4 linked regions of the Homo sapiens genome follow. The protein of the gene in region 1 interacts with the protein of each later gene in a biochemical or structural test. Each region holds a gene or a part of one and is shown on either strand. Other genes may lie near its edges.

Region 1 (7,023 bases):
AAGTAGCCCTAACAATGGCAGGGAGGGCAAGAGGAAGAAAGGCTTATGCAAGGGTAGATATTCATTCCGTGATCTTCCACCATCTAGGAACTGCAAAACCCAACTTCTATTACTTTATTTAAAACCCTTCTCTACTACCTGCTAGAAGTGCCGTGTGGAATATATTGAATTTTAAAACTAACATTAATTTAAATTAATTTTTTTCTGCAGCTTTTATGACTTACTTTGAGATAATCGTTGTCCCTCTGAGTAAAGAATATAGTTCATTGCAGTCTGAATAAGCTTAACAAATAGTTCTCAGAGATAATGGAACTAGAACTGGCAAAAGTCTTATTCAGCCAGAAAAGGACAGGTCTCTGCTGGCCTCCCTTTCTCCCCCACCACAACAGAGCAGTACACCATCCTGTCCCTGGCTGTGTCTCCTCCACCTTCTTCTGCTTCCCACCTGCCTGCCTGATTGGTATGCACAGCCACATTACACTCTGCAGAAACTGATGCTTCCATACAAGCAAAGCCTGAGTGAGCATATGTGAGTCACGTATTGATTCTGTAAGTAACACCAGCATTATAAGAGAATGTCTTCTAATAAACATTGCTGTCAGACTATGGTGGGTTTAAAATACGGCCAGAAATTCTTTGAGGTTCCTCCCTTCCAAAGGAAGAGCCTAATCCCCTCCCACTGAGTGTGGGCTAGACTCAGTGACTCACTTTTAATGAAAAGAGTATGACAGCAGTGCAAGGTGGGACTCCTGAGGTTAGGTCATAAAAGACACTGTGGCTTCCTCTTTGCAGATTGCTTGCTCTGGGGAAAGCCGGCTGCCATGTTGTGAGGACGCTCAAACAACCCCATGGAGAGGCATATGTGGAGCGATTCTAAGGTCTCCTACCAACAGTCATGTGAAGTGCACCATCTTGGAAGCAGATTCCCTTGACCCAGTCAAGCCCTCAGGTGACTGCAGCCATGCAACATTTTGTCTGCAACCTCAGAAAAGACCCTGAGCCAGAACAATTGGGCTAATCTACTCCTCAATTCCTGACACACAGAAACTGAGAAATAATACATGTTTGTTGTTTTAAGCCACAGAGTTTGGGAGTCATTTGTCACACAGAGTTAAATTACTATATAGACTATCCAGAGACTTACCAGAAAACAAAAACTCAAAGCAAAAAGCTCAGCACTTACCCGAGCATCTTGGTCAATCAGTTCATAATCAATGACAGAGCCATCCTCTGCTCTTCTACCCTATGGGGGAAAGAAAAAGAACTTCAAATACATTTCTTTGTGTATTTTAAAACTGAAAATGTTTTCTCCCCAGTCCATGTACGCCATTATTTAATTTCCTAAATAAGTAACCACGTAAGATTTTTCTTACTTTGAAACATAGATGGGGCCGGGCACGGTGGCTCACGCCTGTAATCCTAGGACTTTGGGAAGCCAAGGCGGGCAGATCACGAGGTCAGGAGATGGAGACCAACCTGGCTAACAAGGTGAAACCCTGTCTCTACTAAATTAGCCAGGCGTGGTGGCACATGCCTGTAGTCCCAGCTACTCGGGAGGCTGAGGCAGGAGAATCGCTTGAACCAGGTTGCTGTGATCTGAGATCACGCCACTGCACTCCAACCCTGGTGACAGAGTGAGACTCTGTCTCAAAAAAAAAAAAAAAAAAGAAAGAAAGAAAAGAAAAAGAAAAAGAAACCTAGACCAGCCAAGGAGTGGTAAAATCATTGAGCAAGGAAGTGGGGGCTGTGCCTTGCCATCAACAATCCCCCCCTTGATACCCAGTCCTGGCCTACACACCTTACAGAATCCCTGTCCCCATCCCCCACAAAAAGCTGATGAGATTTAGCTCTTTCTCACAGAGAGCTTGCAATGCAGATGGAGGAATATGTGGAAACAAATGTAAAGCAGCCCGGGAACCCACAGCACTAGAAAGACACAAAATGCGGGCGGAGGAAGAACTCTCAGAGGGCAGAGTCAGCAAAGAGTGTGAACGATGGGCCTGGGCTTAAGCTGAAACTTCAAGGGTCAGTCAGATGCAGCTAGCCAAGCAGAGCGGGAGAGCCAGCTGGCACACAAGGGATGGCACAGCACGCTCTCAGGTAAGTAAGGAGCTGCCCTGTCAGAGCAGAGCTGAGCGGGAAAGATGAGCAAAGAAGATGCAGGGAGGGTTTAGAGGACCTTTCACAGCAGTTAGGAGTTTAAATTTGATGCAGCAGAAATGGGGTTTGAACAGAGGAGTAAAATGGTGAAAGTGTATTTCACAGAGATCCGTGGATGGTGGTACATGGGGCAGGTGGTAGCGAAGAGAGGAGAGCGAGGGAGAATGGCATAGGAGTTGTTGCAGTAATGGAGATGTGAGTGGGCCGGACGCACTATCTGTCATTTGTCATCAGGGTTCCCAGGGTCTCTCGTCCCTCCCCTGGCACATAAGTATTAAGCTACACGCTGGCCAGAACTAGGGATTCACAGGGGAAATGCCCCTTCCTCCATGTTAATGTGTTAATATTAGCAATCAGCTCCACAAAGACAACTCCACCCCAGACAAAGGACTATATGGGCAAATTCTTCCATGAGAAGTAAACGCAGTGAAAAAGAAACCAGAAGGTCACTTCCCACTGGGTCCTGCATGACCACAGATAGAGGCAAAGTGACCTTCCCTAAGTCACACGGCCAAGGCTCTGGCACATAAATCCAGGCCAGGACTTGAGAGCCGCCCATCCCTTCTCTGGCTCCCAAAGTCCACTTGTCCATGAGGTTTTGCAGGATAAGAAATCCTATTATACAAAATTGACAACTCTGCAGTGACAGTGCAAACCCACTTTCAAAAATGCAGCTGAATTTCTGATGCAGGCACAGGGGATTTAGTTAATTCACTCCAAGTATAAAATGAGGTATGTGACTTGCCTTGGGAGGAAGCAAGGGCAAAGAAAGAAACTGGGAAACCAACCTTTGCCAGGGCAACCATCAGCTTGCGGAAGTCACCAGATGTGTCCGAAATAATGTCCTTCTCCAGATCAGTCTTGTACACTTGGAGGAAAATACATCTGGTTTTATGCTTTCTGCCTGTGTAGCCAACCATCCACCCCAATCTCCCCATTTCCCACTAAGACTCTGAGAAGCAGAACAGCTACGTCAGCTGGACATATCCATTCTCCTTAACCCCAAACAGAGGAAGGATTCACTAGAATGATTTTCGCCCTCATGAAATCAGAGCCAGAGTTATTATCCATAACAGGGGGCAGCAGGGCTAGATCAAATCAGGGATCCTCAGGCTCACCGTTGATTGGTGACCTCTCGTGTAGTTTAAATACTGGCTCCCAGCCCTCCTGACTGTGAGTACTTGTTCTGAACATCAAAAAAATTGGAGGTCTACACACGCACACACACACACACAATTGTGCTTTACTGTCCACTGAGAAAATGCACAGCGGCAAAAACTACTAAGAATTAAACAATGCTTTTGAATGAAAGTATATTTCAATATTCAAAATAGCATCTATATTGAAATACAGTAGCTAGAGAAGAACTGTAATGTTCCTGATACAAAAAAAAAGATAAATGTGTGAGGTGATGGATATCTCAATTACCCTGACTTGATAATTACATATTATATATAATACATGTACCAAAATATCACATGTACCCCCAAAATATGTAAAACTATGATAATAACTTTAAAAAGTAAAACAAAAAAGAAATGCAGTAGCGATGTAAGTTGCATTGTTTATTCCCCTCATAGCCTTCTATACTGCTAAGTGTGCACCAGTCCACAGGGGTCTCTTGCTGTAATTCTTCAATTATCCACAGTCCAGAGTTGGCAACCTCTTGAGCAGACACTGAACAGCGCCCAATAAGTGGAATCCATATATAATACTTGCTACTTCTCCTCATCCGATCTTGTTTAAAAACAAGTTTTGTTTTCTCTCCTTTCCCTCCTGTCTACCCTTCTTCTAACACAGAAGTTCTAGTGGAATGTAATAATCAAAATGCAGGCAATGAGGAGGTGAAGGAGAGAAACTTGGACCACAGCCAACCTTGCCTGCATAGTCAAGGTGGCAGGCACTTCTGCACATCACTAATGCAGGCATCTTAGCCCGAACCCTAACCCCAGTGGCCATGATAGAGTCACATAAATTGGGCTGAGAGGATGAATCACAGAAATCAAGCTACTCACTTTCCTTGTAGACTCTGTTAATTTCCTGCAGCTCCTGGTTGGTTCTGGAGCAGATGATCTCAATGAGAGAGTCCTCGTCGGTTCCCAGCCCCTGTGAACCAGGAAGCACGAACATCAGCAGGGAAATGCTTCCCCACCATTAGCCTACTTCTCTGATCTCCATCAAGTAAATTGCAAACATGGATTGGGTCTGTTAGCATCCTGCTTTCTACATTCCTTCTGAAGAATCTATACTCCTACCCCTTAGCACAAAGTAATGGCATTTTCTATTCCTTTAAAAAATGCTTCACCAGAGCACAAGATGGTGGAACTGGCATGTTGGAGTTCAACTGTTAATATGGTTTTTTTTTTTAAGTAGTGAATAGGGGCTGGGCACAGTGGCTCACGCCTGTAATCCCAGCACTTTGGGAGGCCAAGGCAGGCAGATCACGAGGTCAAGAGATCAAGACCATTCTGGCTAACACAGTGAAACCCCATCTCTACTAAAAATACAAAAAATTAGCTGGGCATGGTAGCGGGCGCCTGTAGTCCCAGCTACCCTGGGAGGCTGAGGCAGGAGAATGGCGTGAACCTGGGAGGTGGAGCTTGCAGTGAGCCGAGATCGCGCCACTGCACTCCAGCCTGGACGACAGAGTAAGACCCCATCTCAAAAAAAAAAAAAAGTAGTGAATAGGAAGAGGCAGCAATAGAATATGCCAAAATACTAAAACTGGCAATTGCCTTTTGCTGTGGGTAGATAAAGTAACTTTTTCTTATTATTATTTTTCACTTTCTACAATAACCACTCACTATTTTAACAGATTAGAAATTTCTTTGTTAAACAATTCTCGCTAAAATAAAGGAATACAGAAATTTTATGTTGTCACTTGCAGCCAGCATTGTTAGAGTAAGTCTTTTTACCAGGCAAAGGTATAGTTAAGAAAAAATTTTTAGCTGCACTCTTTGAAATGTAAAATTGGGTTAATGTTAAAAATTTCATTCTTGTCCTTCCATTTTTGCTTGATAATTATGCACTCTTCAGGCACTTTAGGGAAGCAAAAAGAAATAATGAAGTGCCAAATAAACCTAGACACCAACACTTTATTAAGGAATAAGAATTTGATGGGTGATGTATTCAAATTTAATATATACACTTTTGAGCATGTCAGATAGCTTGAAAGGACTCAATGAAACATGTATTTCAAAGCTGGCTTCATGATCAAAGTCAAGATTTAATAATCAGGATTCTTTAATACTTGTCTTTCCGAATATGGAACTATCACTTTGAACTAAGTAGAATTACAACTGTTTAAAATGTAAATCAATTATAAGGTGTTAATACAATAAGAAACTTACCCACATGAAAAGCGTGTCAGCTATTAATTAAACTTATTAGCGTTTATATGCCCCGAAAAAGTAGTTTGTATAATATAAGCTAAGCCTCAGGTTAATGGTTAATTTTGAATTTTATTCTTCATCTAACCTTTGAGCCAATGGCTCTTCTTTCTGAGTTTTTAATCATGATTTGTAGAGGTTCCAGCAAAGCCAAAAATTCTCCCCTTGTTAGCAAAAGGTCCATACAGCATTCTACACAAATGTTATTAAATGACTACCGAGTATCTTTGAATATTTTGAGAGGCAGTTGTTCAATCTCAAGGATGATAGAAATATAGTCTAAAAATAACACACAGTGGGAGAAATGTTATATCCTGACATTGTAGAATTGCAAGACAGGCAGAATAATGTAAGATGTGTTTCCTTCCATCACTGATATACCAGTGGTAATATCTGAGAATTCCAATAGTGTTTTTATGTCTACATTCAAAGGTGACCTTGGCAATTTCCAAAGCCCGGCCCAAACTCTCCACAGACTGTCCACAATTCCTATCACAAGGGCAAATTCTACTGTAACATATGGCAGATACTGCCACCGGTACTGCCAGAAGTCAAAACAGATTTTTTTTTAAGCATAGTTCAGTTAATGTCACTTCAAGCTTTATGGATTTTGGACGGGTATTCAACTGTGATAGCTAATGGAAGAGCTGGCACAGGGTCAAAGCTTCAGCAGTTAAAGCACCTTCCATTGGGCCCAATTACATAGATTACAACAGTGACTGACAGCTCAAAAAGGTCTGTTTCAAGTCCCTAATACCTAGTAATAGATACCAGTAAAGCCACTCGAATCACAACTAAATAGATTCTTGATGAAAATAAGACAAACTGATCTGAAGTGTTGATGGTCAGAAGAAACCTAGGAGAGGCTGACTCATCCCTGCCTCCAAAGGTCCACAGACTCGGTTTTCAGGAGCGCTATTTTTATCAACCAGGATCATGAAATGTTGTCGACATTTTATCATTCTTAATGACGTCTTTTCTGCAGTACAGTCTACTTAGGAAACTCAGACAAGTCCGCTAAAATAAACTGAGCACAGCTTGGGCTAAGCTGAAGAACTAAAGGAAGAAAGAGACTTAACAACAAATCTTACAGCAGCCCTGAGCTATCAAATTCCAGGCTTTGGAGATGCCCAGTGTCCGAAGCACCCTCACTCTTGTGTTCTCTGGGAAAAGGATGACAACTGAACTGTGACATTAGCTCTGGTGACAGGCTTACAGCTCAGACTGTTCATAATTCAGGAACAGTGGCATCAGAGAAAACAGACTCGGAATAAAAAATCAAGACCAATGGTTTCCCTCATCTACAGCGCAGACTTTACCCATGTATATCAGCAGAGGGCAGTGTCGGACTGTTCAAATGCTGCAGACCCACACTAAGAAAAGGGTCCAAATGTGTTGCAGTACAACATACATTAATGTGTGTGCATCTATTGCATTTATATAAAACTTGATGTTGGCCAGGCGCGGTGGCTCA
Region 2 (7,884 bases), on another chromosome or scaffold:
GTGGTCTGAGAGTCTCTAAGAAGAGGACCCTAGGCTTGGCTGAATTCATCTAACCTGAGTAACTGTCTCAGATCCTGGATAGTTGGAGAGCGGGACAGAGGGCACTTCCATCTGCGGTCCCCCTGCTCCTGGGCCTGCTGAATCTACTGTCTTTAACCAAGGGGAGTTTGGGAGACCAAAACACAGAGGGAGGAGGAATGGATCGACTGCTAGATCTTTCCTAGGCATTTTGAAATTTGTGAAATTTGTGAGGCACTAAAGTTCTGACTACTCCCTCAGGCTATTTTTTTTTTTTTTTTTTTTTTTGAGACAGAGTCTTGCTCTGTTGCCTAGGCTGGAGTGCAGTGGTACAATCTCAGCTTACCGCAGCCTCTGCCTCCCAGGTTCAAGCAATTCTTGTGCCTCAGTCTCCCGAGTAGCTGGGATTACAGGCACGCACCACCACGCCCAGCTAATTTTTTGTATTTTTAGTAGAGATGGGGTTTTGCCATGTTGGCCAGGCTGATCTCGAACTCCTGAGCTCAGGCAATCCGCCTGCCTTGGCCTCCCAAAGTGCTGGGATTACATTGCGCCCAGCATCCTCAGGTTATTTAGATACAGGTCCCTGCAGGGGGTGGAGAGTTGTGGGGTGAGTTACAGGGTGCCTCTTTCTTCTGCATTATACCCTTAGATGCAAAGGTCTAAACAGCTTGTTTATGTGGGTGTCTCAAGGCAAAACAGGTTGAGATACTCATTCTACAGGACCTCTGTTAATCTTTGCTTCTACCATACCCAGATTTGAACCCAGAAAGAGATAAAGCTGGAGCCTCTCCAACTAGACATATGTGTATTGGCCCCAAAGGCAAGCACATGGTGTAGGGGGAAGAACAGAAAGGACAGGCCGATGAGTGGCTCCTCTGAGGTCCCCACCTCCAAATCCCTCTCTTCCAATAGCCCCAGGAGCCAGGGCGAAAAAGTGTTTTTATTTTATTTATTTATTTTTTTTGAGACGAAGTCTCACTCTATTGCCCAGACTGGAGTGCAGTGGTGCGATCTCGGCTCACTGCAACTTCCGCCTCCTGGGTTCAAGTGATTCTCCTGCCTCAGCCTCCCGAGTAGCTGGGACTACAGGTGCCCACCACCATGCCTGACTAGTTTTTTTATTTTTGGTAGAGACGGGGTTTCAGCATGTTGGCCAGGCTGCTCTCGAACTCCTGACCTCAGGTGATCCACCCATCTCGGCCTCCCAAAGTGCTGGGATTACAGGTGTGAGCCACCACGCCCAGCCAAAGTGTTTTCATTTAAAGAAGAAGCTTTTAATCTAAAGGTGGGGCCTGGTTTTACCTGTTAAGGCAGTGCTCCTAGGAGGGGCCTTTGTGAGGAGTCAGTTCCCTGCCCCGTCTCACCCAGGGAATCAGTCCCAGGGAGCCTGGTGTCCCTGACCAGCCTAGAGTGGTCAGGGCTGAGATTGCAAATTCACCCCCATCCTGAGGCCACTGCACAAACAAAGTCCTTGCCTCCCTGGCCCTCTATCCCCACTGCCCCTCTGCAGAGGGTCCAAGTTGGGGCTGGAAGCTCACTTTCTCAGAGACCCAGGGGTCCCACTCTAAAGCAGGAAGGTGAGATTCCACTGGAGGTATTGGGTGGGGAGATGAGGAAGCAGAGGGCTTGACAGTATGAGGGCTCAGAGGTACTTGGGACCAGGCCCAGTGTAAACTGCAAATGCAGGACCCCTTGTTCAAAATTATTAAGAACTTGAAGATGAGGACAGCAGGGCATTGAACAAAGCACAGGAATCTTCTGGAGTACAGGGGAGCCCTTTGTGACTGCTAATGTCTGCTCAACAACCTCACCCCTCAGGCAGCTGTTGGGTGGGAGGCAAGCCCCAAAACACTTGGAGGAAGAAGCAGCCCACAGGATTCGTCCCTGCCCCAGCTGCTCTTCCTGGGACTGGACCTCAGGGCTAAGCCATGAAATGATTTACCTGCAGGTGTGCTAGCCCTGCCCGAACTAAGAGCTCTCCAGGAGCAGGCACAAGTCTCATTCAATCTTTATGTCATTGGGATCTAACACCCCTCTGCACACAGTAGACTCAATAAAAGGCAGATGGACTGAACTCAGAGCCCTCCAGTGTCACCTGAGCTGCCCTCCTCCACTGGTCAGCACCCAGTGTTACACCAAACAAAGCGCTCCTCCCCTTTCCCACACAGTCCACTTTCATTCAAATGAATGGCGTTTCCTTATCGTGCTTCCACCACCCACAGGAGTGCATCCCTTCTTCAGCAGCCTGCTTCTGCCTTCCCTCCCCATCCCACACAACCTGGCTTCTTCCCTCTGGTCCTTTTTGGTCCTTTCACTCCCCCTTGGCTGTCATTCTGCCTCTGTCCTTAGGTCTACCCTCAAGATTTTCCTGTGTGGCCCAAAGCCACATCCTCCACCGCCACTAAAAGGGGCCAGCTGGGATTCTGTAATTAGGTGGGCTGGAAGGAAAGGGTATGTCTGAGTGACTGGCACTGACAATACACTTCTAGGGTGCTGTATTCGGAAAGCAGGCCCAGGTGGGTCAGAGGGTCTGAGGATCACGGCGGTAGGGCCACGGATCGTTCTAGGAAGCCTACCTCTTCTGCTGCAGCATATGAAGCTTGTCCAGGTGCTGGTCCCAGTCTTGTTCTCTGACCAGAAAGGAGGGCAGAAGTTTCTGGAGTTGGCTCCCGGGCCCTTCTGCCTTAGGTAGAAAACCCCCCATGTCTTCTCCTTGCAGACACTGGCAGATTATAGAAATGTGGCGAAAGAAACAGGTCTAGGATGACAGCAACTGAGCAAGAGATGGGGTCTATTTGGGGCTGGGACTCTGAGTTTATCTCCTGTATGACTTGTGTATGCAGCATGCAGCTTGTAGGTGTGTGTGTGTGCATGCAGTATGTGGGTTGTGGGGTGTGCGTGTATGCACAGTGTGTGGCTGTGGTGTATGTGTGTGCATGCAGTGTGTGGTTGTGAGGTGGTGTGTGTGCATGCAGGTGCGCTGAGGGGACTGACCGCCCTGCCTGGGGAGAAGTGCTTTTCCTGGAGGGGGAGGAGCTCTTTGCAGAGCTGAGCCCCACAGCCACAGAACCACCCTGGGGAAGAAAAGGAGGAGGGGAAGGAAGGTTCCTAACTGTGGGCTGGGATGGCTGAGACCCGAGAAGCTAAGAGGTGGGGCAGAGGAATTTGGAAAAAGAAAAGGGATGGAAGGTGGGTCCACAAACAAGGTGCACAGTTAGTTGCATGAGGGAGAGGAGGAAATAAAGACTTCCAGCTCAAGAGTCAGGCAGAGCCTGGTTCAAATCCTGACTCTTATCCCTTACAGTTAGGTGAGCTTTCTGAGCCTCAGTTCCTAACCTGTGAAATTGGGGTAACGGCTATGCCGTCTCACGGGAGCATCTGTAAAGCATGTGTCACAAGTACTCAATCACTGCCGATCCTCCTTCCACAAGAGGGCTCAAGAGACCCCCGGGCTGCTTCTCAGAGCTTCCCATTTATGTGTCTTGTGGTCATCTCTGTCCTCAACCCTGTACCTCAAAGGAGGGTTTCTGACCCCCACTTCCCAGGCCAATCCCTCTCTGTGAGAAGTCCTCATGACCGTGACCGGCCAGCTTCCTGGAGCGTCGCCGAGCAGGCTCTGGTACCTGGGGACGCAGGTCAGAGGAGCCCCCAGGGGCCTCGAGTTATTATGGAGGTTGAACAGCAGAAACTGAGCAAAGGTAGACGACAAATAAATCGTGATTCCATGTTTGGGACTCTTTCCAGGAATGAAACACCAGGAGGAATAAGTAATGTTGCACTATTTTATATATTTTATATTATATTTTATATATTAAGTAGTTTCCCTTATCCACAGTTTCACTCTCTGATGGTTCAGTTACCTAAGGTCAGCCACAGTTGGAAAATAGGTGAGTACAGTACTATAACATATTTTGAGAGACAGAGAGAAAGAGAACATTCACATAACTTTATATTATTATAATTTTCATTTTATTGTTGTTAAACTCTTTTTTTTTTTTTTTTGAGACAGAGTTTCACTTTCGTTGCCCAGGCTGGAGAGCAATGGTGTGATCTTGGCTCACTGCAACATCCACCTTCCAGGTTCAAGTTATTCTCCTGCCGCAGCCTCCCTAGTAGCTGGGATTACAGGTGCCCACCACCACGCCTGGCTAATTTTTGTATTTTTAGTAGAGACAGGGTTTTACCATGTTGGCCAGGCTAGTCTCGAACTCCTGACCTCAGGTGATCTGCTTGCCTCGGCCTCCTGAAGTGCTGGGATTACAGGCGTGAGTCACTATGCCCGGCCTAAACTCTTCACTGTGCCTAATGTATAAATTAAACTTCATCATATGTATGTATGTATGTATGTATGTATGTATGTATGTATGTATGTATGTACGTGTAGGAAAAAAGATAGTATATACAGGGTTTGGTGCTATCTAAGGTTCCTGGCATCCACTGGGGCGTCTTGGAATGTATCCCCTGAGGATAAAAGGTGACTACTGTATATGATAGCTTGTATTTATGTTCTCATTTTTTTTATTATTATACTTTAAGTTCTAGGGTACATGTGCACAATATGCAGGTTTGTTACATATGTATACATGTGCCATGTTGGTGTGCTGCACCCATTAACTGTCATTTACATTAGGTATATCTCCTAATGTATCCCTCCCCCCTCCCCCAACCCCACGACAGGTCCTGGTGTGTGATGTTCCCCTTCCTGTGTCCAAGTGTTCTCATTGTTCAATTCTGTTCTCATTGTTTTCAAAGAGGTACATCAATATTATTGAATTGCATTCACTCAATAGACCTATCAGGTAAATGAGAACAAGGAAGAATTCCGTCTGTGAGAATTCTTGGGTGTGCTGGCCCCAAGTCCCATGGCTAGTGGCGAGACTGTAACTGGCCATGAACTTGGGATCTCAGCTCCAAACCACTCTCCAGACCTTGTTGCTTCTTGGGAATCTTTTGGCTGTAAAGGTGTGAGAGACCAGCGTGAGGATACGCTGGGACTCTCCCTCTGGGGGTCTTGAGGAGTGGGGACTGCCCCCTTCTTTTGTTGTAAGAAAGAGAGATCTGCTCCCAAGATTGAGGGATGGACAAAATAACCTTTAGAGAAGGACAAGAATTGAAAGGAAAATAAATAAGGAAACTAAGAGGAGCTAGTGTTCATTGATGTTTCAAAAGGGGGAAAATTTGGATCTTTTTCTTATTAAAAGCCAAAAGGAAAAGTTAAGTAAAAAAAAAAAAAGATACAGTGGAATTATGTTCTCACTGGGAGTGGGGAGGGCTCAACTTGTGGGACATTTTTCTGCCTCGCTGGGGGTGACGCCCTTGTGGAGTGACTTCCAGTCTAAGGAGATGGAGGGAGCGATAAGGGTGAGGTGGGGGTTGTAGATGCCTTGATAAGCGAGGCAGGTCAGGAAAGGAGCACCTGCCAAGGAAACTACAACCCATAAAGCTGGTCCTGGGGCGGGGGGGTTGGGACATGGGGGGCCGGCAGGGGAGGAGGCTGGCCCAGTCTGAGCTGCACAGAGCAGGTGTGCAGGGACTTGCCGCCAAGGGCATGTCCAGGGGTCTGGGGAAGAGAAAGGGGAGGCCCAATGCTCAGGCCCCCCCACCCGCCATCCCTGGGCCTTCGCCCTCTCACTTGCCCTTCTCTGCCTACCTCGTCCTCTCCAGTGGGAAGGGCATGGACAAGTAACCTGGGTGAGGACCATGGTGTCCCCCGGCAGTCCCAGCTGGTAGACCAGAGATTTGGAGTCTCTCCTGTTCTCTCCTTGCCTTCTCTCCAGACTGTTTCTTCCTCTTGTGATATTCGACATCACCATTCTATTTTTCCTTTTCTCTCCTTTCTTTTCATGCCTCTCTCAGCTTTCTGCAAGTGAGGACATCTGCAAACTCTCGCCTTCAGAGAGCAGCTTCCCTGCCACTGATGAATGGTCAGTAATGCCTCCAGGCACTCGGGAGAACTGGGCTGGGGGCACCAAACTACACCGTCAAGTCCCAGAACCCTTCACGCCAAAGCAGCCTGACCTCTTATTCTAACATAATAAAGAGGAGGAGGAACCATAATACCTAGATTTCCATTTTTAAAAATTACACTCCCACCCTACGTGGCCACAGCCATCTACGAAAAGGATTCAGGGCCGGATGCGGTGGCTCATGCCTGTAATCCCAGCACTTTGGGAGGCCGAGGCGGGCGCCTCACGAGGTCAGGAGTTCGAGACCAGCCTGGCCAACATAGTGAAACTCCGTCTCTACAAAAAAAAATTAGCTGGGCCTGGTGGCAGGCACATGCAATCCCAGCTACTCAGAAGGCTGAGGCAGGAGAATCACTTGAACCCGGGAGGTGGAGGTTGCAGTGAGCTGAAATTGCGCCTTTGCACTCCAGCCCAGGCAACAGTATGAGAGACTCCATCTCAAAAAAAAAAAAATAGAAAGAAAGAAAAGGATTCAAATACCATACCTTAAAACTAACTGTGGCCAGGCGCAGTGGCTCACACCGGTAATCCCAGCACTTTGGGAGGCCGAGGCGGGCAGATCACCTGAGGTAGGGAGTTCGAGACCTTCCTGACCAACAGAAAGAAACCCTTTCTCTATTAAAAATACAAAATTAGCTGGGTGTGGTGGCACATGCCTGTAATTCCAGCTACTCGGGAGGCTGAGACAGGAGAATCACTTGAACCCAGGAGGTGGAGGTTGTAGGTGAGCTGAGATCGTGCCATTGCCCTCCCGTCTGGGCAACAAGAGTGAGACTCCATCTCAAAAAAAAAAAAGTGATTATCACTGGATGGTGGAATTATTAGCCTTTTTGGGGTTTTGTATTTTTCTATATTTTCTACTTTGTAATAAGAAAAAATATTTAAGGGATTCCCTGTTTTCTGCAAGAATTTATCTCTTTTAACACTGCGGAGGTCAGGCGGGTGGTGGTGGCAAGGAAATGGAAGTAATGGAAACAACTCAGTTATTTCCACTCAAGCCTGCCCGGGAGGCAATTCTCACCCCAGCCGCCCTCCCCATTCATTCCCACAGAGCTGGAGATGGCTTCTCTTTTTGCCAGGAAACCAAGAGGCTGCTCCCCCAAAATAGCCAGGAGGGAGGAGATTAGTGATGGTTTTTTCCATTCAAGCATCATTCTTTGGATCTCACGTCAATGGGTTCAAGGTGGGGTGAGCAGGGTCACCTGCCTACTTGAATCTTTCCTTACTCACCTTCAAGCGACCTCCGTACCACTCCCTAGTCCCTTGTCATCTGGCTTGGACCATCAGGAAGTGTGTAAGAGATGGTGTCTGCTGTATGTGAGACAGCATCCATGTGGGCATGTCTGCTAACACGAGTAAACTCTGTGGGAAAGCATCTCTTTGTGTGTTTCTGTCTGCAGTTCCCTCTTGCAGAAAGGGTGCCTGTCTCCGCAGTGTCCTTGGACCTGCATGTGGTATTTCATTCAGGTCTGGTATGCATGGATGAGCAGGAGCAGTGTGAACTGGTTATGAGAGTTCAGGAGTGACTAAAGTCTTCTCTTACCTGTCTTAGCAGCCATCCTGCATCTAATGGCCTATGTCTCTGTTGCTGGTTTTCGAAAAAAGGCCTTCATTCTGTCTCCCTAACTCACAACCCTCCAACCATCTCTGCCCAAGAAGCAGTTGGGGGTGATTACCCACAGCCGGTTACTGCCAACAGATCTGTGCTCACCAGGCTCATGGGCAGGAGGCGCATCCAAGTACTGAGGCAGGATTCTCCCAGATCTGTTATTTGGGATCCTAGACTCCCTGCCGCACTGCGGCTTCTCTGCAGACTCTAACTCCTTTTGCCAAGCAATGAGGTTGGAGATGAGCCTCTAACAACCTTTTCTTTCGTCTAAGAGTACAGAAAGGTGTA
Region 3 (7,023 bases), on another chromosome or scaffold:
AAGGGCAAGCTTACCAGGCACTTACAGAGAAGGTTGACGAGGATGACAGGGAACTAATTGGGGGAGGGATGCCATGGTTGAAAACATGGCTGGGGCAGCGAGAAGTTAAGATGAAGTCCCAAGAGTCGCAAGAACATGCAGTTCCAGGACGTGATTCTCTGCAGGGACAAAGAGAGACAGCAGCTACAAGTCTATAGGCAGTGACAAAGGATCTGAGATCCCATCAGAGTAGACTTCAAGTTGGAGAAAACTTTTATTGGCACAGGCATTCCTTGTTAACTTGACAGGGTGAAGCTGTAATTTTTCAAAAACAGTAAAAGCTGGTTTCTCCTAAACTATTTTCCTTGTGGTAGTAGAGATCAGTGGGTCAGAAACAACTCCTGACCACTTGGTTTCCTTTTGAGCCGCGTCATAAGGAGGCAATCTGTAAAACTAGCACAGGTCTCCCGCTGTTCCACTGGCTCACCCACATGATTAGCAGAGTGCACGAAAAAATAAAACTTCTATTAAAGAATCATGCTGAGCACAAGATCAGAGAGGTTGTGACATTGCAAACTCGATAGATGCAGGGGGCCTGGGAGACTGGCGTTCTCCAAAGGGCTCCCAACACCGTCTCTCCTCTGATTTCTGTGACAAATGTGGAAAGCTACTTGCTTGGAGGTACTGGGGGAACTGATGGGGGAACTTTCATCCTGTTAGGAACTCCGCTTTCCATTCCTGCGTCTCTGTCTTGCTCCCTGGAGATGGATGGATCACGGAGGGGGCCACAGTCAGCTGGGGCAGCAGGTACTCCCTACGGCACTAGTCTACAGGGGGAAGGACGCTCTGTGCTGGCAGCGGTGGCTCACATGGCCTGTCTGCACTGTAACCACAGGCTGGGATGTAGCCAGGACTTGGTCTCCTTGGAAGACAGGTCTGATGTTTGGCCAATCCAGTCCTTCAGACCCTGTCTGAAACTTGTATCTTACGTGAACTTAAAGAATAAAATGCATTTCTACCCCGATCTCGCCCCCAGGACTGGCACGACAGGCCCACGGCAGATTAGATCTTTTCCCAGTACTGATCGGTGCGTGGAATTCCAGCCACCACTTCTGATTCGATTCCACAGTGATCCTGTCCTCTGAGTATTTTAAAGAAGCCTGGGAATAAAAAGTAAGGTGCTTTTAAAGTGTGACAAGGGTCAACCAATATAGTCAGACTCATCCTTAAAAGACCTTAAGTCACTCATCCCTGGCCACTCCTGCTGTTGGCCCACTAGCACAGTCCTCAACACCACAAGGCTTCTGGAGCCGTGGGGCACACCTCCACGGGCAAGCCCCCTGCCCGGTCACCCTTCCCATCACAGGATCTGGCGCGATGCTGTGGGAACTGTTGCAGGCGTTGGCTCTGAAGCTGCTCAGAGTCTGCCCTCACAGCAAAAGGGAACTCCTGACTGCCTGGCACTTAGGAGGAGCTCACAGCCTGGCCGTAGGTCCAGGGTTTAAGGCTGTGCGGTGGGTAGAACAGAGAAAGCCGAGATGGCCACGGGGTGTGGCTCACAATTCACTGTTCTTGGCAGGAAGGGGGCAGCCACTCACCATTGTCACCCCAGTCAGTGTTCCAGGAGTTGGCAACCAGCCAGTAGGGTGTGCCATTCTCCACTCCCCAGCCCAGGATGCGGATGGCATGGCCACCCATCATCTCTCCGGTGACGTGTTGGTACACTCCTGAAAAGGGAAGAACTGGCTGAGACCGAGACCGGGCCACTGTCCCACGCCCCACAGCACCCCCCACACTCAGCTGGTCATGCTCCGGGAAGGAGAAACAGCTTCCAGAGGGAACCTGCTGCTCCACCAGGAGGCTCCAGGGGGGGTCCCACAATACTGGGGAATTAAATATATTTTTGAAGGCCCAACACACTCAAAGTTGTTGAGTAAATATTGAAATAGATTCCTACAAAATGTGCTTGTTGGCTTTAAAAATAGAATTTCTAATACATTCTAATTGATAAAACATTTAATGCTAGATGACTGATTCATCTGTTCTTTATACTGGGATTCCATGTAAGTAAGGGTTTGTCAAAAGCGTTACACGGCTTAAAGAGTTTTAATAGCTGCTCCAGGTACACCCTGAAGAGGTGAGGGAGGAGAAGGGAGGACTGGTGGCAGCTAATGCTAGCTGATGGGAAAGATACTGGCTAAGGGGCTCAGGGCTGCCCAACCAGGCTCTCGGGTGGGGAAATCACTGTCAAAGTGGAAATGCATCTTTTAATAATAAGGGCGAGGACTATGCTAAGAAGTGCCATCTTCACAGAAACTTTTTCTTGCCAGAATCATCTTCCTTTGTCAAACTGTTGTTTTACAAGTTTCCAATCTAGCAAAATATTAATGGGATAGATGCAGTCAGCAAAGACTGTTCATCTGGAGCAAGGGATTTCTAAGACAGGACTTGGGGATGGGGACTGTCCAGATTCCTTGGTTGGAGTCCCTATGGCACTACCCAGGGCAAGGTCCTCCCTGTGTGTTCATCCACTGGTGTGAGGCACGATCTAGGCCTTTGCAAAGAGAAAGATGAAGAAAATGTGTCAGCCAGTGCAAACACGAACGGCCTGCCATTATAACAGAAACATGCTGGTAAAGCAATGCAAAGCCAGGAAGGCGAGGGCAGGCGTGGCCAGCCACCAGGGAGGGGGGCGTTCCCACAGAGAACATGTATGAGCTGGACGCTAATGGATGGGAAGGAACTAGCCCAGAGGCTCTGGGAGAGGCCTCTGGAATTGTGTGTGTTGGCACAACACCTGGACAAAGACAGTCAGGTGCCAGGCTGGTCCACAGAGGAGTGAGCCTATATGGAAGGCCCCACACAGCCCTCTTCCCCAGCCCCTCACCTGCCTGCCCAATCCAGCCCTATTGGTCAACATGAACCATCCTGGCACCCAGGCTCCCCTCCCGACCCCCACCCTCTATTGCCATCAGCCATCAGCACGCACCTGACTTGTAGAGCAGGAAGTCCGAATACACAGAGAAAGCTCCCTCCACGGGGCCGTTTTTGTAGATCTCGGCCATGATGTCCTTCTCGCTATTGGAGACGCTGTAGGAATTGTATCCTGGAAAATGAACCGAGCTCGGGGTTGGGGAGGGCAGTGACCGTGCCTCGTGGCACGCCACGGTCAGCCAGTCACTGATTTCTGGTGGCCTCCAGGGGAAGACTGCATCTAAGGGGACTTGCCCTGCCAGGGGAGCTCAAGGAAGGCTCCCCTGAAGAACTAAGGACAGGGCTGGGGCTGGAAGCTCAGAAATGGGAGAACGGAGCAATGAGCACGAGGCCCCGGAAGAGGCCAGGATACCTCAAGACTCCAGGACACGCCACTCCCTTGTAAAAGGAGGGCTTTGGTCCCTTCCAGTTTGGAAGGGCTGAGGCTGAGTTCAGGGTGGAACAGGCAGAAAGTGGAGAGTGTGCTGCTTCTCCTGGCAAGAGGGCATCACTCCCCCTCCTCTATCCTAGAGTTCCGGGACCCCAAGGCTCCTCAGCCCTGACCTCTTCGCTGCAGCGTGAGGAGGGATGCAGCAGCTCCCCAGCCTCCACGTGCGCCGTGGCCAGGCCCCAGGCCCCTTACCGTAGTGCTTGTCCTGTTTGTAGGTCGGGCTGTAGCCAGGCTCACAGATCTTGCTACACTTGGGGGTATCTCCCTCCCCCGTGCATGGGGGCCGGGAGCCGTTGACGTGGTGCTCACAGGGAGGGATGGAGTACGGTCTGCACCCTGATGGGACGCGGGAGAAAGCGGAGTCAACCTACAGCCCCCACGGAGAAGACCTGGGGCAAGGCAAGCCTCGTGCCTGCAGCATGGACGCCAGGCAGGTCCTGCCAGAGGCCTGTGCACCTGGCTAGCACCTCTCAGCAGCCCCTCTGTCTCAACCCCCAGTTTATAAAGGCAAATAAAGCCATGATGGTTAATTGCTCAAACAATCCATCTGGCCAGAAAGTGGCCAAGGGGACACACTTACCTACATGGGATTCATAGAGGCCACCAGAAACCAGGCCTTTTCTTGTCCAGAAGTTCCAAGCTTCAGCAGGATAGCCACCATTACAGCTGAAAAGACAGCCTCTAATGAAAACCTCTGAGAGAAGCACCACCAGCTCTCCAGACCACTGTGTGCTACCCAAGTGCCCGAGGCCACTCGTGGACCCACCCCCAGCTGCAGCAAGTGGTGCGAGCAGACCTCCCAGACCCCAAACCCTCCAAGGGACGCTCCCTAGATAAGCACAGCTTGCAGGGAATAACCGCCAGCCCCACCCCTGCCCACAAAGATCCGGGAGAAGACAGGAGGCTCTCCTGTTCATGTCCATACCAGACCAGGCTACGAGTGCCCTTCCGGGTAGAACACTGATTCTCAACTGAGCAGACGCTAAACTTCCCTAAGGTACTTAAAAACACCACCAGTTCTCTGAAATGAGAATCGCCAGTGATTCCCATTTAACTAGTTAGGGGAGAAGCCCATGCATTTTTTTAAGCCCTCAGGCATTTCGGATCTGCAGCCGCCAGTGAACACCGCTACTGCGGAACCAAGGCGAGGCTGCAGGCAGCTGGAGCAGAAAGTTCTGTGCCACCACCTTGTTGTTAAGGTGGAGCCATCCCCGCTAACTACACATAAGGAAATGCCCCAAACTGGTTCCCCAAGCAGGAAAAAGGAACATGCGATGACACAAACCAGACCAGGGGCCAGACATTCCACCACATTTTCTGAAACTGACTGTTTTGCTGGGATGCCACCCCTCAGACAGCTCTGCCGGGCCAGCCTTGGTTCAGGCACCTCCCAGGAAGCAGCAGCCTTGCCAGGCCCTGCCTGCCAGACTCTCGGAGTCTCCCCGAAACACTTCTGACTCGCAGCAGTCCCAGGAAGTCCTCAAAGTCCCCTCCACTGAGAAGCTGGGGCCCAGGGTCTCTCAGCACTAAACCCGCTGTGGAAGCACAGCCTGACTCACCCGTCCCCACACATGCTGCCACAGCATGTGAGCAGGTCCTCCGCCGACACCTCCACGCTGACGTGCGCATTGGTGTGGATGCAGATCCGGTCAGAGATGGCTTCCACAGCCCCGAAGGCCTGCAGGAACGAGCCCCACCGGGTGAGGCTGCCATGTCCGGGCTGGGCCCTCTGCAGCAGTCCCCTCAAAGGGCCACAGGGGCACCTCAGACCTTGTAGGCAACTGATCTCTCAACACCAGGGGACGCTCCTGGGGCTCAAACTCAGCTTTTATTTTCTTTGGTAGAAATGGGGTCTTGCTACGTTGGCCAGACTGGTCTTGAACTCCCGGGTTCAAGTGATTTGCCCACCTTGGCCTCCCAAAGTGCTGGGATTAGAGGCGTGATGAGCCACTTGCCCCACTCTCCTGCCTCAACGATTTGCCCAACTCAGCTTTTAAAGCAAGAGAAGCACCCCCGTGAACCTCTGCCTGGAAACTGGGTTCATTTCTGAAATCTGCAAAATGTGTAGTATTAGTTTGTATGTGTGTGTGTGGTTTTTTTTTTTTTTCCTGGAGGCGGAGTTTCACTTTTGTTGCCCAGGCTGGAATGCAGTGGCGCAATCTCAGCTCACTGCAACCTACGCCTCCTGGGTTCAAGCAATTCTCCTGCCTCAGCCTCTATAGTAGCTGGGATTATAGGTGCCTGCCACCAGGCCCAGCTAAGTTTTGTCTTTTTAGTAGAGACAGGGTTTCACCATGTTGGCCAGGTTGGTCTCAAACTCCTGACCTCAGGTGATCCGCCTGCCTCAGCCTCCCAAAGTGTTGAGATTACAGGCGTGAGCTACCGTACCTGGCTGTGTTTTTTTCTTAACAAAAAACACAGCTCACCCAGAAAATAAATACTGTTGTGATCCACTTGTATGAGGTCCCTAGGAGTCAAATTCATAGAGACAGAAAGTAGAGTGGGGCTTACCAGGGGCTACAATATTGGTGTTAATGGGGACAGAGTTTCTGTCTTGCGAGCTGAAAAAGAGTTCGGGGGACAGATGGTGGTGGTGGCTGAGCAACACTGTGAATGTACTTAATGCTACAGAACTGTACACTTGAAAATAGTTGCTGGGCACGGTGGCTCACGCCTGTAATCCCAGCATTTTGCGAGGCCGAGGAAGGCAGATCAACAGGTGAGGCGTTTGAGACCAGGCTGTCCAACATGGCAAAACCCCATCTCTACTAAAAATACAAAAATTAGCTGGGCGTGGTGGCACATGCCTGTAGTCTTAGCTACTGGGGAGACTGAGGCAGGAGAATTGCTTGAACCCAGGAGGCAGAGGTTGCAGTGAGCCAATATCCCACCACTGCACTCCAGCCTGGGTGACAGAGCAAGACTCCATCTCCAAAAAAAAAAAAAAAAAAAAAAGAAAGAAAAAGAAAACAAAAGAAGATTGCTAAGATTATTACATTTCTGTTACGTGTATTTTACCACAATTAAATGACAAAATTAAGACAGCTCACTGACACTAAAGGGATGCTTTCTTGAAGCAGAGTAGCAGTGAGAGCTCCTGGTATTTGCGGACGGGCCAGCATGTCAGGGAAAGGGAGCTGCTTCGCCACCTGTACACGTGGACTTGCAATCTGCTGGATGCTCTGCCCGCCACTCCACCTAATCCTCGCCATCATTCATGGCCAGAGGGATTGTGATTTTTGTACTGATGGAAACTGGGACTCAGAAAGTTTCTATAACTTGCCTTGTCAGAGTTGTCCCCACCCCGAATCCCCCAAGACTCTCCAGTGTTGCTCCCACTTTCTCTCCAGCGCTTCCCCGCCAGCCAGCAGGGCCTTACCCAGCAGGAGCCACAGGAGCCCTGGTCTCTGATCTCTTTGATGGTGGGACACTGTGGCCATTGTTCCCGTGCATCGAAGCTTGCAGGCAGCTTCAGGTCCTCGGTAAACATAACTCTGGATAAAGGAAGGTCTTCATTACAAGCTCTGATCCCACAACTCCCTCCCCAATCCCTGCAAAGGCCACTTTGGCTGGGCCACACTCCCCTAACAAGGAAATGAGCACAAGACATGCCGAAGAAG
Region 4 (7,023 bases), on another chromosome or scaffold:
CGGACTGTGTCTGCCAGTGTCCTGAGGATCTGATGATGGGCTTGGGAAGGAGGAGGGTATGAGCCGTGGAGTGCTGCCTGTTTTCATTTATTTCCCCCATTTTTCCATTTTTTTCTCCCGACCTGAAACTGACAAAGCATACCTCTATACATAAATACCATAAATGGAAGGGATTTTCAAGATTATCTAGATCTGCGAGTCCTCATTTAGACCAGACCATGGGGGATGGGGAGGATATTGTAGAGTGACTGTAAAGTCTTCAGAGTCACAGGCATCACCCGTGGACCTGGGTGCTGAATGCATATAGCTGGTGCGTGTTTATATATATCATATATAAATTTAATATATGTGTATTACATATATATATACACACACCCACACACATATTTATGTATTTATTTTGAGGCAGGATCTCACTGTCACCCAGGCTGGAGTGCAGTGGCACAATCATTGCTCACTGTGGCCTCAACCTCCTGGGCTCAAGCGATCCTCCCACCTGAGCCTCCCAAGCAGCTGGGACCATAGGCACAAGCCACCACACCTGACTAATTTTTGTATTTTTTGTAGAGATGGAGTCTCACTTTGTTGCCCAGGCTGGTCTCAAACTCCTGGGCTCAAGCAGTTCTCCCGCCTCAGCCTCCCAAAGTGCTGGGATTATAGACACGAGCCACTGCACCTGGCCCTATATATATTTAGAACTTAAAAAAAATCTTTCATAGTGCTGTGATAAATGTGATAAGTAACGTAATGATTTGTATAAGCACCACTGAATTCATAGTACCTTTCTGTAACTTAGCATTTCATTTTTTTCTTTTTTTTGAAACAGTTTTTTGTTCTATCACCCAGGCTGGAGTGCAGTGGCATGATCTCGGCTCACTGCAACCTCCATCTCCCAGGTTCAAGCAATTCTCCTGCCTCAGCCTCCTGAGTAGCTGGGATTACAGGTGCCTGCCACCGTATCCGGCTAATTTTTGTATTTTTAGTAGAGACAGGGTTTCACCATGTTGGCCAGGCTGGTCTCAAACTCCTGACCTCAGGTGAGCCGCCCGCCTCAGCCTCCCAGAGTGCTGGGTTTATAGGCATAAGCCACTGTGCCTGGTCTTGTAACTTAATATATATTTTTTCAATCTTGGAAGTTTTTTTTTTTTTTTTTTTGCATTAAAAAGTTTGAGAGGGAGCGAAAGAGAGACAAAGCCCCATTCACCCATTAATCAAAAAAGGGAGAATCTCCATTCATTCTCAAAAGGACTGAAAACCACTGATTCAGCCCCATCCTCTCCTCCATAGAGGAGGAAATTGAGGGTCAGAGTGTGAGGAGATCAGCTCCAGGTCAGACAAATAGCCAGTCAGAGGCCAAGCCCAGGCACAGACCTAAGTCCTGTCTTTCTTCCCTCTGCAACCAAAATGACTCACTCCTGGCCTCCCCCTTTCTCCCCTCAGGTGCAGGAGGGCTATCGGCCTGTCCTCCTGGACTTTCCTCCCCCAGGGACATTCAGGGAAAGGCGGGGTGGCTGCCACTTACCCTCAGAGCAGGCAGGGGTGCTGCAGAACTCTGAGCTGTACTTCCCCGCCTTAAAGACGTAGCACCAGGGCTTTGAGTCTCGATCTGGGTTTCTGAAAAATCAGCCAAGGGAAGGGCCAGGGTAGGTCAAAGGTGAAGCCTCTCCTTTAGGACCCAAGGACTTTGGTATCCTTTTCTGGAGGAATGGGGGGTGCTTTTTTTTTTGACAGAGTCTCGCTGTTTATCCCAGGCTGGAGTGCAGCGGCGCATCTCCTCTCACTGCAACCTCCGTTTCCTGGATTTGGGCAATTCTTCAGCCTCAGCTTCCCGAGTAGCTGGGATTACAGGTGCCTGCCACCATGCCTGGCTAATTTTTGTATTTTTAGTAGAGACAGGGTTTCACCATGTTGGCCAGGCTGGTCTTGAACTCCTGACCTCAGGTGATCCACCTGCCTTGGCTTCCCAAAGTGCTGGGATTACAGGCGTGAGCCACCACGCCCAGCCGGGAGTGCGTTTTTGGTTGTACACTGGTAGTTCTATCATGTTAGGCAGGAGTATGATTTTGTTCCTGTGTTTACTTGGAGGTGAAGGATGGTTTAAGGAGATGCACATGGGTGCCAAATTGACAAGGTGTGGACTGGAATAGTCTTATATGTCAACTTGGCCAGGCTGTGGCACCCAGTCAGTTAACCAAACATTCATCTAGGAGTTGTGAAAGTGTTTTATAGATGTGGTTAATATCTACAGCCAGTTGACTTTAGAAAAGGAAATTGTCCTAGATAATGTAGTTGGGCCTCGTCCAATCACTTAAAGGCCTTAAGAGCAAATATGAGGTTTCCTGAATAAGAAATTCTGCCTTAAGAGAGCAGCCTCAGCTTCTGCCTGCACTTCCAGCCTGGCTTACCAAGATGTTTCGGACTTGCCAGCCCCCACGATCCTGTCAGCCAGTTCCTTAACATAAATGTCTATCTATCTAGTGTGAAAGGAAAATAAATCTCAGGACCCCAACGTCATGAGCCAAGGGAAATGTCAAGCCGGGAACTACGTCAGGCAAACCTGCCTCTCATTTATTCCTCAATAAGATAGCTGCAAAGTTTTTTTTTTTTTTTTTTAATTCTCTACAAGGACATTCCTTGCAGGCCTAAAGATCTTTACCCTAAAACAGTTCTGTTGACTTTCACCTTGGCATTGTAAATGGATAGCTTATCTTCCCAGGTGCAGGACAGAAAATCATCCCTCTGCTCATCTGAGACAAATGCGTATCTGATTGCTTCCTCTGCCCTATTTTTTATGTAAAAATGCAGATGAACTGAGCCAGACTCAATTGTGTGTTCAGTGAAAAGCTGATCAAGGACTCAGAATACAGCCTTTTGTCTCTTATCTACCTATGGCCTGGAAGCCCTTGCTTCGAGTTATCCCAACTTTCCCGACCAAACCGATGTACATCTCACACATGTTGATTGATGTCTCATGACTCCCTAAAACGTCTAAAGGCAAGCTGTGCCCTGACAACCTTGGGCACATGTCCTCAGGACCTCCTGAGGCTGTGTCACGGGGGTGTCCTTAACCTTGGCAAAATCAACTTTCTAAATCGATTGAGACCTGTCTCAGATACTTTGGGTTCACACACATTCTCTCTCTCTCTCTATTTCTCTCTCCTCTTTCTCTATCTCTATCTCTCTATCATCTATCAATCTGTCTATCATCTATCTATCTATCATCTATCATCTTACATCTACTATCACCTATGTATCTATCATCTATCAATCTTCTATCATCTATCAATCTATCTATCACCTATCATCTATCATCTATCATCTATTTATCATTATCATCTATGTATCATCTATTTAATCATCTATCAATCATCTATCATCTGTCAATCTGTCTATCATCTATGTGTCTATCATCTATGTATCTATCATCTATCTTTCTAATCATCTGTCTATCATCTACCACCTATCATCTATCATCTATCCATCTATCATCTATCTACCATCTATCATCTATGTATCTATCATCTATTTATCTATCAATCATCTATCAATCTATCATCTATCTATCACCTATCATCTGTCTATCTGTCATCCATCTACCGTCTATTTATCATCTATCTATCATGTATGTATCATCTATTTATCTAATCTATCACCTATCATCTATCATCTATCAATCTATCATCTATCACCTATCATCTATTATCTGTCTATCATCTATCCATCTATCCATCCTGTATTGGTTATGTTTCTTGGGAGAACCCTGACGGATCTGACAGAATCTTTCCCCAGCTGTAGCAGCTTCTCACAGGGGGAATCCCTCCTTGGGGATGTGCCCTCACCTGCAGTAGTTGTGGTTCCCCAGGCCCAGCCTGATGGCGTCTGGCCTCCGCCCGCTGTAGGGCTTCTGGGCCAACGCGCTGCTGTTCCAGTTGGTGCACTCGGCGCCACTCTCCGCTGTGCTCCACGTGCCCCTGTAGCTGATGCCCTGGTCCTCGTAGCACGTGGCCCTGGTATCTGACAGAGAGCAGGGCATGGATGCCTCACATGGGAGTCCCCTTTCATTCAGCCCTCAGGAGGCTCCCCTCTCTGCCCCGTCCTCCCCCAGGCCTGATGCAGGCTGGCTCGGAAGCCACAGGCTGGGTGGCAAGGGTGCCAGCCTGGATTCAGGGTCACACCTAGGCTCTGCTTGCTGTGTGGCACTGTGCTTCCTGACCCATGGCAGAAGCGCCTTCCCTGTCCCTGGCCCCCACCCCTGGCCCTGCCATCGCACCCTGCCTTTCCTTCCGGGGGCGGGGGAGACTGGAGAGGTGGGATTTCAGCTCGTTTCACGTGCTCTCACCTACTCACCTATTTCACAGCACTTCCCAGCAAATCCTTCGGGGCACTGGCACACGAAATCTGAGAAGTACAGGGCCTGCTGGCAGGTGCCCCCGTTGAAACACCTTGGCTCGCTGCAACCTGTCAAGTATAAAAAAGGAAGCCCCTAATGACAGCCTCCTTCTGTGTGCTCAGGCCATGGTTCCAGGAGCCCTGTCTACCACAATCCACACACACTCAAGTCCTGCAGCGTGGAACACGCGTATACCAGTTCTGCATCCTACAAATACTGTTTTCATCCTGCCTTTGGTTGAAAAAAATCCATACATAAGTGGACCCTGCAGGTCAGACAAGTGTTGTTCAAGGGTCCCCTGTATTTTCAAAGCAGCTCCAAGGATGATGTGAGTTAAAATATTAAGAATGTGCTCTATGTGCCAGGCGCTGTTGTACAGTCTACAAAAATTAGCTAATTTAATCCTCACAGCAAACCATGAAGTGTGTACTGTTATTCCCACCTCTTTATAGATGAGGAAACTGAGGCAAGCGGGCATTTGCCCAAGGTCACTTGGTCTTGCTCCCTTTTCTGCTTGTACCTTCACCTCCGCCTAAGGCCGAACAGGCCTGGAGGCTCCTTTTGAAGATTTGAACTTTCCGGGGACCATGAAAGACAGGGTTCATGACTGGACCCCTGAACTCGAAGTCTCAGTTTGAAGTCGATTTGTACTGGGCTTTTCTGTGTTTTTGTTTTTGTTTGTGTTGTTTTGTTTTGTTTTAGAGGTGAGGGCTTGCCCTGTCACTGAGGTTGAAATGCAGTGGCACAATCGTAGATTACTGCAGCCTCCAACTCCTGGGCTCAAGTGATCCTTCTGCCTCAACCTCCCAAGTAGTTGGGACTACATACCAGGTCTGGCTAATTTTTTTATTTTTTGTAGAGACAGGGGACTTGCTATGTTTGCCCAGATTGGTCTTGAACTCCCGGGCTCCAGCGACCCTCCCACCTTGGCCTCCTAAAGTGCTGGGATCACAGGCATGCACCACCTCCCAGCCTCAGTACATACTTTTGACAGGCACTGAGTGGCACTGTGCCCTGCCACTGTTGCACCAGCAATATTCCACCCGGTTGCTTCTGAGCACAGGGCGCAGCCATGACTGATGTTGCTGGTATATCATCTGCGTTTTTTCATCTCTGCAGATCACTATGAGAAAAGACAGGCCAGCCTCATCAGAGTATGACTCAAAATGAAATGCCTCACTACCCTTGCACCTACTGAGAAAACTCCCTCACTTGCTTTCTATAGACTCCATTGCATACTCCCTTATTGAAGAGACACAACTGGAAGACAACAAGATAATGAATACTGGCCAAACACGGTGACTGATGCTGGTAATCCCAGCACTTTGGGTGGCCGAGGTGGGTGAATCACTTGAGCTCAGGAGTTCGAGACCAGCCTGGCCAACATGGTGAAACCCTATCTCTACTAAAAATACAAAAATGAGCCAGGCATGGTGGCAGGTGCCTGTAATCCCAGCTACTCAGGAGGCTGAGGCAGGAGTATTGCTTGAACCCAGGAAGTGGGGGTTGCAGTGAGCCGAGATTGTACCACTGCACTCCAGCCTGGGCGACAGAGCAAGACTCCATCTCAAAATAAAATAAAATAAATTTGCATTTCTTTTCTGAGTGCCATTGAGTATCTTCTCATATGATTTATTTATTTATTATTTATTTATTATTATTATTTTTGAAACAAAGTCTCACTCTGTCGCCCAGGCTGGAGTGAAGTGGCACAATCTCGGCTCACTGCAACCTCCACCTCCTGGGTTCAAGTGATTCTCCTGCCTCAGCCTCCCGAGTAGCTGGGATTACAGGTGCCCGATACCATGCCCGGCTAATTTTTGTATTTTTGGTAGGGACGGGGTTTCACCATATTGGACAGGCTGGTCTCGAACTCCTGATCTCAAGTGATCCACCCACCTCGGTCTCCCAAAGTGCTGGGGTTACAGGCATGAGCCACCGTGCCCAGCCTAATTTTTTCTTTTCTTTTCTTTTTCTTTTTTTTTTTCGAGGGTCTCTGTCACCCAGGCTGGAGTCCAATGGTGCTGTCTTGGCTCACTGCAACCTCTGCCTCCCAGGCTCAAGCAGTCCTCCTGCGTCAACCTCCCAAGTAGCTGGGACTACAGGTGCACACCACCACACCCAGCTAATTTTTAAATTTTTTTGTAGAGGCGGGGTGGGGTGGGGGAGGCAGAGGTGTCTCACTATGTTGCCCATGCTGGTCTTGAACTCCTGGGCTAAAGCCATCCTCCTGGATCCGCCTCCTAAAGTGCTGGAGTTACAGATGTGAGCCATTGCACCTGGACTTTTTCTCATTGTAATTCACCAAAAAATATATATATGCATAACTGTCTACCAGAGTTTTTTATCCACATAAGTATTACCACACAGAAATGATGCATTTTTGGCCCCAAAGAAAATTGACATTTTAGACTTTGCAGAAAATGTGCTACTTCTCCAAGTATTTTTGGCATAATGAAAATAGTTGAAGTACTCCCATTAATATTTTCATGCCATCTTTCTGTTTTCAAGCCAGAATGCCAACTTAAAAAACAACAACTTTACTTTCAATTAATTAAAGAAGTAGCACGTGCCCACTGTAAGTCAGACCCTTGCTGCTTCTGAGGTCACTGAGGCCAGGATAACCTGGTAGG

Evidence for each region.
Region 2: the proteins of ANXA2 (region 1) and TRPV5 form a complex in vitro, tested with the Homo sapiens proteins (one study listed by BioGRID).
Region 3: the proteins of ANXA2 (region 1) and CTSB form a complex in vitro, tested with the Homo sapiens proteins (one study listed by BioGRID).
Region 4: the proteins of ANXA2 (region 1) and PLAT form a complex in vitro, tested with the Homo sapiens proteins (one study listed by BioGRID).

The regions. Positions count from the first base shown.
Region 1 is NC_000015.10:60,352,971-60,359,993, forward strand, and holds part of ANXA2 (annexin A2), read right to left. Parts: intron 4,267-7,023; coding exon 4,176-4,266; intron 3,029-4,175; coding exon 2,949-3,028; intron 1,244-2,948; coding exon 1,184-1,243; intron 1-1,183. UniProt on the Homo sapiens protein: Calcium-regulated membrane-binding protein whose affinity for calcium is greatly enhanced by anionic phospholipids. It binds two calcium ions with high affinity. May be involved in heat-stress response.
Region 2 is NC_000007.14:142,930,735-142,938,618, forward strand, and holds the start of TRPV5 (transient receptor potential cation channel subfamily V member 5), read right to left. Parts: upstream 3,013-7,884; 5' UTR 2,726-3,012; coding exon 2,598-2,725; intron 1-2,597. UniProt on the Homo sapiens protein: Constitutively active calcium selective cation channel thought to be involved in Ca(2+) reabsorption in kidney and intestine. Required for normal Ca(2+) reabsorption in the kidney distal convoluted tubules.
Region 3 is NC_000008.11:11,844,084-11,851,106, forward strand, and holds part of CTSB (cathepsin B isoform 1 preproprotein), read right to left. Parts: intron 6,898-7,023; coding exon 6,783-6,897; intron 5,082-6,782; coding exon 4,963-5,081; intron 4,070-4,962; coding exon 3,984-4,069; intron 3,740-3,983; coding exon 3,596-3,739; intron 3,086-3,595; coding exon 2,969-3,085; intron 1,707-2,968; coding exon 1,578-1,706; intron 1,140-1,577; coding exon 1,042-1,139; 3' UTR 1-1,041. UniProt on the Homo sapiens protein: Thiol protease which is believed to participate in intracellular degradation and turnover of proteins. Cleaves matrix extracellular phosphoglycoprotein MEPE. Involved in the solubilization of cross-linked TG/thyroglobulin in the thyroid follicle lumen.
Region 4 is NC_000008.11:42,183,559-42,190,581, forward strand, and holds part of PLAT (tissue-type plasminogen activator isoform 1 preproprotein), read right to left. Parts: intron 5,514-7,023; coding exon 5,376-5,513; intron 4,459-5,375; coding exon 4,348-4,458; intron 4,015-4,347; coding exon 3,840-4,014; intron 1,615-3,839; coding exon 1,523-1,614; intron 1-1,522. UniProt on the Homo sapiens protein: Converts the abundant, but inactive, zymogen plasminogen to plasmin by hydrolyzing a single Arg-Val bond in plasminogen.